Homo sapiens: one gene and its partner. The protein of the gene in region 1 purifies or fractionates together with the protein of each later gene. This does not show direct contact. Each region holds a gene or a part of one and is shown in the gene's direction. Other genes may lie near its edges.

Region 1 (3,753 bases):
TGACATTTGAATTTGTATCTAGTAAAACTGTCACATTTGTCTTCTCAGAGGAACTGAGATTTAACTGTGTTTTTCTTTTCCTGGCATATTTTTTCCTCTAACAAGTCAGAGATTTGTTGCATGTTACTTGCTGCAATAGAGCAAATAAGGAATACTACTTTGCCTCTGTCTCATTACAGCTGTCCCCAATCTCTTCATGCTGGAAACAGTGGATTCTGTGAAGTTGGCAGACAAAGTGAACAGTTCCTGGCAGAGAAAAGGTTCTCCTGAAAGGTTAAAGGTTATGGTCCAGATTAACACCAGCGGAGAAGAGAGTAAGTAACCAGACCTGAATTGTAGATTTTTCTTCCTTTAGGATGGTTGAAGCTTAGGGAGAATGGGTGGGCCCAAGTGTCTGATGGATAAGGTTATAGAAACAAATCACAGGATCACAGGCCTCTAAGTTGGCTGTTTTATGTGTGATCTAGGTAGCATAATGGCATGCAAAGCAGTCTATGTATCATTCTTTACTACATCATGGTTCATTATATCTTAATTTTAGGGGAAGAAGAATGGATGGGGAGTTCAAGAAGGGGATTGTGACTTCGTTTTGTATTTTTGTTTTTTTTTTGAGATGGAGTCTTGCTATGTCGCCCAGGCTGGAGTGCAATGGTGCGATCTCGGCTCACTGCAACCTCCGCCTCCCGGGTTGAAGCAATTCTCCCACCTCAGCCTCCCAAGTAGCTGGGACTACAGGCGTGCACCACCACGCCTGGCTAATTTTTGTATTTGTAATAGCGATGGGGTTTCACCATATTGGCCAGACTGCTCTCGAGCTCATGACCTCTCAAGTGATCCACCCATCTCGGCCTCCCAAAGTGCTGGGATTACAGGCGTGAGCCACCACACTCAGCCTTTTTTTTTTTTTTTTTTGAGACAGAGCCTCACTCTGTCGCCAGGCTGGAGTGCAGTGGCACGATCTCAGCTCACTGCAACCTCCGCCTCCTGGGTTGAAGCGATTCTCCTGCCTCAGCCTCCCGAGTAGCTGGGATTACAGGCACGCGCTACCACGCCCAGCTAATATTTGTATTTTTAGTAGAGACGGAGTTTCGCCATATTGGTCAGGCTGGTCTTGAACTCTTGACCTCAGGTGATCCACCCACCTCAGCCTCCCAAAGTGCTGAGATTAAAGACATGAGCCACTGCACCCGGCCTGGGATTGTGTCTTTCATCTGGAAACCCCCAAAGGTCACCATCACTCCTACAAGGAGTATTTTAAATTTTTAAGACCTAAGATTATATAAATACTCTTAGATCTTAAAAAAATTACTTGATGTTGCATTGGGAGAGAATGGAAGATAATTACTGTGAGTGGGCCAGGTGCGGTGGCTTACACCTGTAATCCCAGCACTTGGGAAGGCTGAGGCAGGTGGATCACCTGAGGTCAGAAATTCGATACCAGCCTAGCCAACATGATGAAACTTCATCTCTACCATACATACAAAAATTAGCCAGGCATGATGGTGTGCACCCATAGCCCCAGCTGCTCGGGATGCTGAGGCAGGAGGATCCCTCGAACCCAGGAGGTGAATATTGCAGTGATCCGAGATCGCGCCACTGCACTCCAGCCTGGGCGACAGAGTTAGACTCCATCTCAAAAAAAAATAAATAAATAAAAAATTATGGTGAGCACCAGTCAATGAATATCTTTATGGGGCTTGGATTAACAGTGTAACATAGTGTGAATAGAAGCATGGGCTTTGAAATCAGACAGACCTTGGGTTTCAGCTACACTACTTTCCAGTATTGTAACCTTGGATAAGTTACCTAATCTCTCTGTACTTCAGTTTCCTTTTTTGGCAATGGTATCATGAGAATGCTTACTTCAGAGGGTGTGGTTAGGACTGAATATGATAATCCAGGCAACATTGTTAGCACAGAACCCTACACATGTTGTTAGCTATTCGTTAAGAATAAATGTATACAGATCAGGCATTTGATTGCAACCATCAAAGCACCAGTATTCACCAAATCTTAGTATGCAGGAACACAGTAGAGGCATCTGTTTTCTAGATAACGTCCTAGAGTCAGACTACCTGGGTTTAAATCCCAATTATCAATAGAAATCTGAAATCAACTATAGGTCAAGTCTTTATTGTATCATTTCTTGATAATTAGCTATAATATGCCCTATTTAAAGACTGAAGTAAATGTTACTAGTATCTCCGCCTAATAAATGGGGGCAAGACAATATCAATAGCTCTTATAACTGTATAACAAATAATTGCTTGCTGCAGATTTCTCTTCCAGTTGTTAATTAGAAAGTTCAGTTAAACTTTGCTAATATATAGCCAAAAATATTTAACATGTACTTTATACTAAATTTTTTGCAACTCCATTAAATTAATAAAACTATAAAAATTCTTGATTTAGAAAAGTAATTCTCAGGTTCATCTGGCATTTTGGCAATGCAAATCTTCCTGGTATCCCAAAAAAGCAAGATTTTTTCTTTTCCATGTCTCCTAGCTGTTTTCAGCTGAAATCCTGAGATGGAGGAAAGAGAATCCAACTGATAGTTCTTTTCTTGAGAAATTTAGAACCTGACCAGAAGCAGAGCAACATAGAAAACCCCAAGTATAAAGTTACTCTTTAGGACTTGAGGCTCTTTCAAGAGGTTCTCTTGTTGGGGGTCACCTCTTCTGTCGTAAGGAAGGGAGGAAAATGGAGCCTTCCTCTGGCCATTTACCCTTGCAGTATACCTGTTTTCTGTTTCTTTTCTTGAAGGTAAACATGGCCTTCCACCTTCAGAGACCATAGCCATCGTGGAGCACATAAACGCCAAGTGTCCTAACCTGGAGTTTGTGGGGCTGATGACCATAGGAAGCTTTGGGCATGATCTTAGTCAAGGACCAAATCCAGACTTCCAGGTACTGGGGGGTCGGGGAGATTGCTCGTGTGCTAAAGAAGCAGGGTGCTGGAGTGCTATTGCAGGGCTGGCTGCAGTGGGGATTGCAGAGTCATCCCAGACACTGCCTGTTGAGTGTTCTAGCCCTCTTTTGAACTCTTCTCAGAAGGAAAAGGGAAGAACAGGTTTCCAAAGCCCCACAAACCTTTTTCAACTCAACTTGAACTTGGCTAAAACATAGTCTTTAGAGAATATGAGATTTCTTCCTCTCCAGTGACTAATAGTTTTCTCGAAAGTGGGATAGTTTGCAAAAAACCCTTTCAGTAACGTCTGGCAATTTTGGCAGGCCTTGAAATCATAAGGAATACATAACCGTTGTCAGAGAAGTTCAGATTCAGACACTTTTGGGCATCGTTAGAGAAGGCAGGAGTAAAATAGGTGTCATCTCTTTCTGTCAGCTGTTATTGTCCCTCCGGGAGGAGCTGTGTAAAAAGCTGAACATCCCTGCTGACCAGGTTGAGCTGAGCATGGGCATGTCCGCGGATTTCCAGCATGCGGTGAGTGTCCTGCCAGTGCCCTGTCTGCCTCGAGGGGTGGGGGTAGGGGGTCTGAGAGGCTGACACAAGAGCAGATCTTTGCTGTAGAAGCCTTGGAAATGCCTTGGGATGGCAGTAAGGTACCCAGTGTCAGCTATTCCAGCATCTCCCATTCCCCATGCCCTTTCTTTTTTGAAAAGAGCCAGGTGCGGTGGCGCACGCCTGTAATCCCAGCACTTTGGGAGGCCGAGCCGGGCAGATCACGAGGTCAGGAGTTCGAGACCAGCCTGACCAACATGGTGAAACCCCGTCTCTCCTAAAAATACAAAAATT
Region 2 (3,753 bases), on another chromosome or scaffold:
ACTCCCCACATCTCAGATGATGGGCGGCCGGGCAGAGACGCTCCTCACTTCCTAGATGGATGGCGGCCGGGAAGAGGCGCTCCTCACTTCCTAGATGGGATGGCGGCCGGGCAGAGACGCTCCTCACTTTCCAGACTGGGCAGCCAGGCAGAGGGGCTCCTCACATCCCAGACGATGGGCAGCCAGGCAGAGACGCTCCTCACTTCCCAGACGGGGTGGCGGCCGGGCAGAGGCTGCAATCTCGGCACTTTGGGAGGCCAAGGCAGGCAGCTGGGAGGTGGAGGTTGTAGCGAGCCGAGATCACGCCACTGCACTCCAGCCTGGGCACTATTGAGCACTGAGCGAACGAGACTCCGTCTGCAATCCCGGCACCTCGGGAGGCTGAGGCTGGCGGATCACTCGCGGTTAGGAGCTGGTGACCAGCCCGGCCAACACAGCGAAACCCCGTCTCCACCAAAAAAACACAAAAACCAGTCAGGCATGGCGGTGCGTGCCTGCAATCGCAGGCACTCAGCAGGCTGAGGCAGGAGAATCAGGCAGGGAGGTTGCAGTGAGCCGAGATGGCAGCAGTATAGTCCAGCTTCTGCTCGGCATCAGAGGGAGACCGTGGAAAGAGAGGGAGAGGGAGACCGTGGGGAGAGGGAGAGAGGTGAGACGGGAGAGGGGAGAGGGGAGAGGGTCTCGAAACAATTACTTGTAAAAGCAATCTTTTAAATATTTTTAATGAAATTATTTAGCTGGCATTTTTCCCCTTAAAGTTATTGTATAATGGTATTATACAATAATTGAAATCAGTTGGCCATCATGAACTGATATACATGAGCATTAAAATGCCCATCAGTTTCACTTGCTTATAGATACATCCTAATCCTTCCAATTGGAATAAGAAAATATATTTCGTGATAATGGCAGTAATATATGTCTCTCTGAACTGAGTTTGTAAAACATTTTAAAATCCAAACTGTATTGTTGATCAGTGTATTAGGAAAATAATCATTCTGCTGCTATACTTAAATTAGTTAAGCATTTGTTGGAAAGTTGTGATTGTTTTAAGATATATGTAGATAAATTGGAATGAACATGAGAAAGAATAACATACAATGGTTACAATCTGGAAAATAGGTCTTATGAAAAAATGTTAAAGGAATTAGGGCTGTGTTAGCTCTCTGGAAAGATGACTAAATGATAAATTATGACTATTGCTTAAACAGTTAACAAGAAGAGTATAACCATCTACTTTTTCATCTATCTAGAGCAAATTAAAAAGTTATACTTAAATTCAGCTTAAAAACAACAAATATTGAAATCGGCCTAGCACCAAAGATGTTGCAGAATCAGTAATAGTGGAAATCATGAATAAATCAAAGCTCACAAGAGTGAAGTGTACTTGGTACCAGGGTTTTGTTTTAATGGGGGTATAAATCTTTGCACATATGTATTCATCTTTCTAGATTTTTGTTGTTGAGATGAAATAGATTTAATTCCCCAAATTTAGCCAGTTAGTAAGATCCTGTATTATTGAGAGATCCTGTATTATTATTTATTTTTTAGTTGGTATTGGTGAATGATTTTGGTAACAGTTGTTTAAAGGGTTAAAGTATTAAAGATACAGAAAAGTGATAATTACCTTTGAAGGTAAATCAAAAAAGCTGAAGTCCCAGTTACAGCCACACTACATCATTTGCTATTTTACTTTGAAAATTTACATATCATTTGTTATATATATTATACACATCCCATGTAGTGCTATGGTTTATTTCTTATGCAAGATTAAGAAACTGTAATAACTAGAACAATAGAGCTCCTATTCCTGGGGTCAAGACATGGAAGTACAGTGGTCTTCTTTTATTTTACACTTTATTTTAGAATCCCTTATGCCTTGGACGGTAGAGATACAGTCTTTGTTTAAAATGGTGATTGAACTGGATAACCTATTAAAATGCCTTCCAACTCAGCAAGTAACTTGTAGATTAGTGATTTCTATATTGAATTTAATAATGGAGATATTATGGTGTTCAGAACATCTGAGTCTCTAATAAGAAACTATTTTAACTTCTCTGGGCTTCATTAATCTTACCGTTTAATGTGACAGTTTAGTTGATTTCCATCATCCCTTCTGGTTTTAAATTTTATAATTTAACAGATTTAAAGAGAAAAATATCTCTCATTTTGAAAGTTAACAACAATCTATTTAGTTTAGGTCTATTGCATGTTTGAATTTTAATGTGAGATCCAGTTCAAGTTAAGGTATATTTTATACTGTTAGAACTCGTGACAGTTTCTATGTCAGAATTTAGTACATCTGGAATATGACCAGTTATTACTAATAGTAAAGAAAGTAGACATGTCTTTCTTATTAGGAAATTTAATTATGTACTTAATGCATGTATTTTTTCCAGAGAACTGGGGAAGAGTGTAATTGAAATAAAAGTACATTATAGACATTAAAATATTCTCAGCTAAACATGGAAGGACTTTAATATTTTTTCAGTTTTAGAAACCTATTACTCCCTTTTTTTGTTTAATGCTAGACATTAGCAACAATGTTGGGTAGTCAGTGTTTCTTTCTTTCTTTCTTTTTTTTTTTAATTGAGACAGAGTCTGGCTTTGTCACTCAGGTTGGAGTGCAGTGGTGCGATCTTGGCTGACTGCGGCCTCCTCCTCCTGGGCTCAAGCAGTCCGTCTACCTCAACCTCTGAGTAGCTGGGACTACAGGCTTGTGCCACCATGCCCAGCAAGATGGTGTTTTGCCATGTTGCCCAGGCTGGTCTTGAACTCCTGAGCTCAAGCAATCCATCTGCCTCTGCCTCCCAAAGTGCTGGGATTATAAGCATGAGCCGCCGCTCTCAGCCAGTAGTTAATGTTTCTTACTTTGTAGCTAATTAAGGCTCAGAGATGTTTAGTAATTTGCCAGGGTGTTCCTGATATCATGTGGTAGATAGAGCCAGAATTTTAAACTCAGTGTTAGAATTTAAAACTTAGTTGTGTTTCATTCAAAAATTGTGTTGTTTCCTCTGGTTCTCAAACTTGGTTGTGTTTGAGAATCATCTTGAGTGGCTTTTGCAAAAGAATAGATGCCTGTTTCACTGATAATCAGTAGATCTTTTTGAGTATCGCAGGTATGTTTTAAAAGCTCCAAAAGTGATTCTTATAATGTCAAAAAATATTCTACATCAGCACTTCTCAAATTTCAAAGTACATACAAATCACCTGGGGAAATCTTATGAAAATGTAGGTTTGGGTTCAGTAGGTCTGGGCAGGGTCTGAGATTTTGCATTTCTAACAAGCGTCCAGGTGAATTGAAGAAGGTCCTCTATGTCCACATTATGAATAGCAATGAGACACACTATGTGACATTTGATTTGTGATTTGAAATTTTTGGCTACAATTCCTGTGAAGGCTGTAGTTCATTCACATTTCTTATAAGAGATATGAGAGCATGTTTTAATATCCCTTACATGCCTTTGAATTTTTACTTGAAGAGCTTTTCCTTTATATATGAGAGTAGCAAGTTATGAAATATTTACTGAAGCTTTAAATCATCCAGCTATGGGACTGTATTCACATTCTGTTAACTGATTTTGGAAATAGTAGAGTCCAGTTAAAATCCTGGTTAGATGTCATCTACCAGATTTCATTATATAGTTACATATTCTGTTTAGTTTTGATAGTTTGATGAAAAGTTTATATAAAAACTGAGCCTGGTAGCATACATTTATTATTAGTCCTTCCCTGAAAGAAAACAAATATATT

What was found. Proteins that work in one complex are often made in the same cells at the same time.
Region 2: the proteins of PLPBP (region 1) and ARFIP1 fractionate together in Homo sapiens (co-fractionation; 2 studies listed by BioGRID). This does not show direct contact.

The regions. Positions count from the first base shown.
Region 1 is NC_000008.11:37,772,576-37,776,328, forward strand, and holds part of PLPBP (pyridoxal phosphate homeostasis protein), read left to right. Parts: intron 1-179; coding exon 180-314; intron 315-2,733; coding exon of another isoform or gene 2,734-2,763; coding exon 2,764-2,906; intron 2,907-3,342; coding exon 3,343-3,441; intron 3,442-3,753. UniProt on the Homo sapiens protein: Pyridoxal 5'-phosphate (PLP)-binding protein, which may be involved in intracellular homeostatic regulation of pyridoxal 5'-phosphate (PLP), the active form of vitamin B6.
Region 2 is NC_000004.12:152,866,877-152,870,629, forward strand, and holds part of ARFIP1 (arfaptin-1), read left to right. Parts: intron 1-3,753. UniProt on the Homo sapiens protein: Plays a role in controlling biogenesis of secretory granules at the trans-Golgi network. Mechanistically, binds ARF-GTP at the neck of a growing secretory granule precursor and forms a protective scaffold.